2 linked regions of the Homo sapiens genome follow. The protein of the gene in region 1 purifies or fractionates together with the protein of each later gene. This does not show direct contact. Each region holds a gene or a part of one and is shown on either strand. Other genes may lie near its edges.

Evidence for each region.
Region 2: the proteins of TSPYL4 (region 1) and NAP1L5 purify together in Homo sapiens (affinity purification with mass spectrometry; 4 studies listed by BioGRID and IntAct, with this or other methods). This does not show direct contact.

What each region holds. Positions count from the first base shown.
Region 1 is NC_000006.12:116,252,587-116,256,501, reverse strand, and holds the start of TSPYL4 (testis-specific Y-encoded-like protein 4), read left to right. Parts: upstream 1-2,426; 5' UTR 2,427-2,493; coding exon 2,494-3,738; 3' UTR 3,739-3,915.
Region 2 is NC_000004.12:88,696,204-88,700,118, forward strand, and holds the start of NAP1L5 (nucleosome assembly protein 1-like 5), read right to left. Parts: upstream 1,627-3,915; 5' UTR 1,552-1,626; coding exon 1,003-1,551; 3' UTR 1-1,002.

The sequences.
Region 1 (3,915 bases):
ACTGCATATACAAGTGTGGGACCATACAATTGTAATACTCTATTTTTACTGTATCATTCTTATGTTTAGATACAAAAATGCTTACCATTATGTTACAAGTGCCTACAGTATTCAGTACAGCAACATGCTGTTCAGGTTTGTAGCCTAGGAGCAATATGATATACTATTTAGCTTAGGTGTATAGTAGGCTATTGCAGCTAGGTTTGATAGATGTACTGTATGATGTTTCCATAATGACAAAATCCCTGTCATTCAGTGAAACGTAACTGTACTAAGTTGGATAGTAAAAGTCATAAGGGCTATACAGAAATCAGAAGACTGTCAAAATGGCAAGTAATTAAGGAAGGAGGTAAAGTAATAAGGTGGGAGGAGGCAATCTGCCAATTAATACATATGTGACCATGGGCATGTTAACTGCTCTGTGCTCACTGGGTCTTTGTTTATAAAATCTAATGTATTTAAACTGCCTAGTACAATCTACATGAACTGAGTGTTAAAGAATGGCCAGGTGGTTATGAGTGAAAAATGATTCAGGTGACAGAACTAATACAGGCTAGAGATGGGAATGCTTTGAGTAGTAGAGATATAAATCTTTAAAAAACTTTGGCACACACAAAAAGAAAAAGAAGTTCACATGTAATTTTATACTTTTCTATAAATTTGTATAGTAGCAAACTTGTTTTTTCCTGCTGCATGGAAAAGTAACTTTCATTCAGTATTCCCTGCTTCTCTTCATCTTGACTCAGGTTATAATGGAAAAGTTACTCTTTCAACAGTGCAAAGGTTCTTTGGAAAAGAAACAGAGCAGTGTCAATAATTCAAAGTCACAAAGTCAATTATAGCACGCTGTTTATGTGTTTACAAAGACGATACCTCAATAGATTGATTTCACCCCACAAATAAAAAAAGAGCGTTTATTAAGACAAAGAGGAAAGAGGGAGAGAAAAATAATTGCTCTCTGCTGTGTGAATCTTGTTTGCATATTTCTTATGGGATAACTGATTAGCTGGCAGGCAGTAAAGAGGTCATTCTGGACACATTGTCCTTGGGTAGGCTGACTAGGCATACAAAAAATCCTGCAAGGCAGGCTGTTTCTCCGTATTGTCTGCCAGTGACCTTTCATCAGTACTTTATCTTAGTTGAACCAGAACTACACTCCTTCCCTCGCTAGAAGTCTCAGTATATATGATGTATTCCTCTAAGAGGAATCCTTTTTCTCTAAATCTGTACTTCTGAGCCTGTATTTGAAAGTGATCATAATCTGGGGGGCTTAAAATGGAGTTTCTTTTACAAAGAGTTATAATCATAACCGTTTATTTGAATATAAATTTGACATTAAACATAAATATGCAAAATTTAAATTTCCCTTTGGTCTTGCATTTTTCTAAGGATTAACACCATTATTCTCACACTCCAACAAACTAATATATTGTACTGATAATCACTATCAAATGAATTGTAAGAGCTAACTGACTCGAATAGACAATAACTAACCTTACTTTTAAAGTATTTTAAGAGACAGTAGCATAGATGCCTGCACATAGCTGATTATTGCTCCTGTGCTGCAGTGAATTACCACATGAACACATTTTGAAAAGATTTGTTAGCTTCATGTCCACAGGCATTATGAAGCAGGAACCACTTTTAGATTAAGATTGTAACCTGAGGAAAAGAACATATGCATCAGTTTAGAAATTAAAATCCCCTGAGATATTTCTTTCAGTAATGCTTAAAAGCCTAAATTTGTGCTCGTGTGCCAGTCACCTCTACGTAAGGAAAAACATTTTGCTACTCTTTGTTAAAAGTGAAGAGGAAATATTGTCCACTTGTTTTGTAGATGTTGGCCAAATTATATAAACTTTAAAATCTGTAAGACAAATTGAAATATTCCTTTATTATGTCTTGTTAGGATGAGAGAAGTTTGCCTTTCAGCTGCTCCTTAATTTTAAAAATAACAACACAGCAACACTTCTCTTTAAAATCAAACTCTGCTCATTTAAATTCTTTGGTAATAGCCATGAATCCACACCTTAAAAGAAGGAAGGCCTGTGAGTTCGTGAATCCACTTTCCTACTCAGGAGAAGCCCTATGAACTGACTTGAATAGACAGTAACTCACCTTAAAGTAAATATTTTCAGAAACAATAGGTTAGGTGCCTTAGAAATTCATTCAGAGGCTTAGAAATCCACATTAACACAGTTCTTACATGCTTGAGTCTGGTCTACATCCATTTACGTAAGTAAAACTCCCCTTCCAGACTGACGAAATTCTTTTTGTGACAAGAAGACAAAGGAATACGATGGATTGATAAGCGTAGTCAACCGCGCAGAGAGTTCTCGCGCGATGTTACGACGCTACCGCCCTGACATCACCAGTTGCCATGGTAGCACCGCCGAGAGTAAAGGAGGGGTGGTGCTAGACGTTTCGGGCAGAGCTCGGCCGCTGCGGAGGACAAGGAACTCTCCCTCTCCCACTAGTCTGACTTCTTCCAAAATGAGCGGCCTGGATGGGGGCAACAAGCTCCCTCTCGCCCAAACCGGCGGCCTGGCTGCTCCCGACCATGCCTCAGGAGATCCGGACCGAGACCAGTGCCAAGGGCTCCGTGAAGAAACCGAGGCGACACAGGTGATGGCGAACACAGGTGGGGGCAGCCTGGAGACCGTTGCGGAGGGGGGTGCATCCCAGGATCCTGTCGACTGTGGCCCCGCGCTCCGCGTCCCAGTTGCCGGGAGTCGCGGCGGTGCAGCGACCAAAGCCGGGCAGGAGGATGCTCCACCTTCTACGAAAGGTCTGGAAGCAGCCTCTGCCGCCGAGGCTGCTGACAGCAGCCAGAAAAATGGCTGTCAGCTTGGAGAGCCCCGTGGCCCTGCTGGGCAGAAGGCTCTAGAAGCCTGTGGCGCAGGGGGCTTGGGGTCTCAGATGATACCGGGGAAGAAGGCCAAGGAAGTGACGACTAAAAAACGCGCCATCTCGGCAGCAGTGGAAAAGGAGGGAGAAGCAGGGGCGGCGATGGAGGAAAAGAAGGTAGTGCAGAAGGAAAAAAAGGTGGCAGGAGGGGTGAAAGAGGAGACACGGCCCAGGGCCCCGAAGATCAATAACTGCATGGACTCACTGGAGGCCATCGATCAAGAGTTGTCAAACGTAAATGCCCAGGCTGACAGGGCCTTCCTTCAGCTTGAGCGCAAGTTTGGCCGCATGCGAAGGCTCCACATGCAGCGCAGAAGTTTCATTATCCAGAATATCCCAGGTTTCTGGGTTACTGCCTTTCGAAACCACCCCCAGCTGTCACCTATGATCAGTGGCCAAGATGAAGACATGCTGAGGTACATGATCAATTTGGAGGTGGAGGAGCTTAAACACCCCAGAGCAGGCTGCAAATTCAAGTTCATCTTTCAGGGCAACCCCTACTTCCGAAATGAGGGGCTTGTCAAGGAATATGAACGCAGATCCTCTGGCCGGGTGGTGTCTCTTTCCACTCCAATCCGCTGGCACCGAGGCCAAGACCCCCAGGCTCATATCCACAGAAACCGGGAAGGGAACACTATCCCTAGTTTCTTCAACTGGTTTTCAGACCACAGCCTTCTAGAATTCGACAGAATTGCAGAGATTATCAAAGGAGAACTGTGGCCCAATCCCCTACAATACTACCTGATGGGTGAAGGGCCCCGTAGAGGAATTCGAGGCCCACCAAGGCAGCCAGTGGAGAGCGCCAGATCCTTCAGGTTCCAGTCTGGCTAATCTCTGTCCTGTGAGAAGCTTCTGCACAAGTTTCCTTACCACCTCCTCTTGGACCTATGCTTGGCCAACAGCATGCAGTCTTCCATCTGCTTTCTCTTCATACTGTGGATTATCTTTTCCTTTGGTTCTAAATCTTCAGTAATCGGTTGCAAGATTGTTGGCTTACCTGCCTGTGCC
Region 2 (3,915 bases), on another chromosome or scaffold:
GGGGCACACACTTGGATTGGTTCTTCAAGTATATATTTTTTCCAAACATTAGCTTCAGTGAAGAGTTCTGATGATTTTCACAGCTACACCCTAAAAGCTACATGACAGAAAGACGTCACAAGGCGCAAAGTACATAACGCTGGATACACATGCTTTACATAATTTGCTACATTCTACATCTCTTCAAGTAAATTAATATTTCTAAAACGCTAGGTAAAGTGATTTAATACTTAAACATATTTGGGGTATTTTTTACGTGTTTGTAAATAGACAGTACTAAGAAAACACAAACATGAGATTGTAACTAATGAATACATATGTTGACAGTATTTTACAGGTTTTACACCCTCCTTCTTGGAACCATGTTGTTTCTCTAAATTCAAATACTCAAAACATTTTTCAGAACTTGAAATGGCAGTTTTCCTGGCCTTATTAACAGTAGTGTCATGATCTCCATTGCAATCTTCCTCAATGCCATCAATCTCCTGTGAAGTGTAAAGCTGATGTCTGCGTTACAAAAGCAAAGTCTCAAAGATGACGTTTTTCTTGGGTTCTGCCTTCTCTGCACTGCGAAATGTCATGAGTAAAGAAATTTAAGAATTAAGCACTGAGAACGTGTTCAGTCATGGCTTGGGTGTTCCATGTGTAGCGTATGCTGTGTGATGAATGGGTTTCAAAGTGACGTTCTTTACTTCGCATCTGCTAACACCCTTTGTAAACCTCAATCCTCAGAGAAGAGACCATGAAAACATAATTTTGGGTTTAATTCAGTTTTCTTTAACACCTTTTGATATATTTATTATGTTCAAAATGAAAGTCAAATTTGAATCGAGCTGGCCAGGATCTAATTGCTTTAATTTAATCTATTTTAGGAATGTCAGAATAAATTCACATTGTATTTTGGTCAAAAACCTGAGCCTTTTTAAGTCCATCGATATTCTGGGAAAAACAAAACCAGGCTTTTTTCTTCGTGGGCTTTCTCTTCATCCATCTCTGCCCCCCTTACTTCTTGGCGTCATCAGGCATCTCGGCGTGGGCATCGTCATGTTTGGCCCCCGCGGCAGCCTCTGCCGCAGCCTCCTCCTCCTCCTCGTCTTCCCCCTCCTCCTCGTCATCCTCGTACTCCTCTTCCTCCTCCTCCTCCCCCTCCAAGGTCCATGCACACCCCTCCATCTCGCCGGTGAGCTCTTGGATCTTGGCGAGTAGGGGCTTATAGATGTCATTATACTTTTTTTCCAGAGCCTGAAATTCCTTATCAAATTTGGCTTCTATCTTATCGCATCGCTTCTGCAGCTTTTTGAGGGCCAGGACTCGGCATTTCACCGAATTAGGCAGGCTCTCGATAAAGTCATTTTTCGGCTTTGGGGCATTCTCTGCAGGGGTCTGGGGCTCCTCAGCCATCTGACCAGCCGCGCTGTCAGGGTCACCAGCCGCGCTGTCACAGTCTCCACCCTGCGCACCGCCTTCCGCCATTACCTCCTCTGCCGCTGCCTCCGCCGCTGCCGCCGCCTGGCTAGGCTCCGCAGGCCCCTGGTTTTCCGAGTCGGCCATGTTAGAGGAGAAGCCGCAGAGGTCTAGGAGGGCTCCCGCAGAGGCCCTGCACCCGAGCTGGTCCAGAGAGATCTTGCGGATGCGGCAAGTGGCGGTGACGTGCGGCCGCGGGAATGACGTTGGCCGCGGCCCCGCCTCCTGCTTTCGCGGCACTTGACTGGCTTCCCACTATCAGCTGACGGCCGTGTGCTCATACTGCACCAGATTCCTCCTGTTGCTACCCTGACATCTTCTGGGCCCTCAACACCCGCCTGTTGGACAGACACCCTGTTCCCAGCCCACCCATGTACCCACCCCTGTAGAGCTGGGCTGGGAGTGTCAGTAGCTGCCCGAGGTGCTTCTTCAGGAACTGCATAGATGGCCTCAGACCATTTTCCGTGTGCTCCTCACCCCCATCCAGGCCCTTCTACAAATGCCAGTGCATATGTCTTCGCTTTCCTCTGCATCTCTCTCCATAGCTGGCGTTTGATCACCTCTTAGATTCCTCCGCATTCCTCTCCATGCAGTGGAGGAACGGGCAAGCTGGCTCCATTCCACCCCTTTGGGGACCTGGGGTGCATGTGTGTGGATAGGGCAGCTTGCATATCCAAGCTCTGTACCTATGTGTCCACCCAACACCCCCTTGGCCATCCCACACACCTAGCGGCATATATCTTGGTGGCAAGGTCGTCTCTCAGCAGGACTCCCCTGGAAGCAGTTTTGGAGCCATTTGGGTAGGAAATCTCAGAGCTCCCGGTGTCCTGGTGTGTGTTCTAGAAGATCCTACAGAATCTTTGGCCTGTGGGAAGGACTAAAGCTTGAGGAGGGCTGAAAAAAAGCAAGTCTTTCTAAAGCATGGGGCCCAGGGCCAAGGCCCCCTCTTATCTTGGTTAAAGCATGTGCCATCTATCCCACCCCGCTCACATTCGTCTTCCCTGCCTTCCCCCAACACCGTCTGCTTCCCTGCCTTCCCCACTATCTGTTTTCACACCTTTCCACACCACATCTTCTCCCTCCCTCCTGCCCCTCCCCCGCACTGACTTATGCCCCACCTTCTGCCCATCTTCTTCCCCGCCTTCTTCCCCACTCACTGCCTCCTTCCTCACCTTCCCCCCGCCGCACTGTCCTTTTCCCCACCTTCCTCACCCTCTTCTTCCCCACCCTCCTTACCCTCTTCTTCCCCACCTTCCTCACCCTCCTCACCCCCTTCTTCCTCACCCACTGCCTTCTTCCTCACCTTCCCCCCACCGAACTTTTTCCTCACGCTCCTCACCCTCTTCTTCCTCACCCTCTTCACCCTCTTCTTCCTCACGCTCCTCACCCTCTTCTTCCTCACCCTCTTCACCCTCTTCTTCCTCACGCTCCTCACCCTCTTCTTCCTCACCCTCTTCACCCTCTTCTTCCTCACGCTCCTCACCCTCTTCTTCCTCACCCTCTTCACCCTCTTCTTCCTCACGCTCCTCACCCTCTTCTTCCTCACCCTCTTCACCCTCTTCTTCCCCACCCCCTAGCCCCACCCTCTTCCCACCCACCCCCAGCCCCGCCTTCTTCTTCCCCACCCACCCACCCAGCCCCACCCTCTTCCTCCCCACCCACCCACGCAGCCCCACCCTCTTCTTCCCCACCCTGCCCACCATCTTCTTCCCCACGATCTGTCTTCTTCCCCACCTTCCCCCACGGTCTTCACCACCTTCCCCCAACCGTCTTCTTTACCCTGCTCACCATCTTCTTACTGGCTCACCATCTTCTCTGCCTTCTTTCTCACTCCCATATATCATCTCTTTTGATGGCTACAGCTGCCTTGAGATTAGGAATGATGTTTCTCATTTTACAGATAGTAAACTTAGAAGCAAATACAGTGAAATCATCTTACTGCATGTATCACTTAATTGGCAGATGCAGGGGCAGAAAACAGGCCTTTTGACCCCTATAGTATGGATGTTGTGACAGACTTTAAAAAAAAAATCCCACATTTTGGTTAAATTCATTTGACTAACTTAACTTGCTTAAAATATTTAGGGCATGTTCATCTTTCAAGATTTTTATTTTCCTGTCTCAACAGATCTTAAAACTTAGTGTTAAACCAGACTGTTTTTTAAAAAGTCTGGCTTATTGAGGTATCATTTACATAACAGTAAAATTTGTCCTTTTGGGCGTGCTTTCACAAGCAAATACAGTAATGTAAGCACTGTAGTAATCAAGATATAGAACAGTAAATAGTCCCCTAAAAGTCCGTTGTGGCCCTTCCCCAGCATCCAGCCCTGGTGAGCACTGTGCTGTTCTCTGTCTCAGTACCTCTGTTTTTTCCAGAATGTCAGGTAAATTGAATCATATGAATGTAGCCATTTGAGCCTGGCTTTTTTTTTTTACTAGCAGAGTACATTT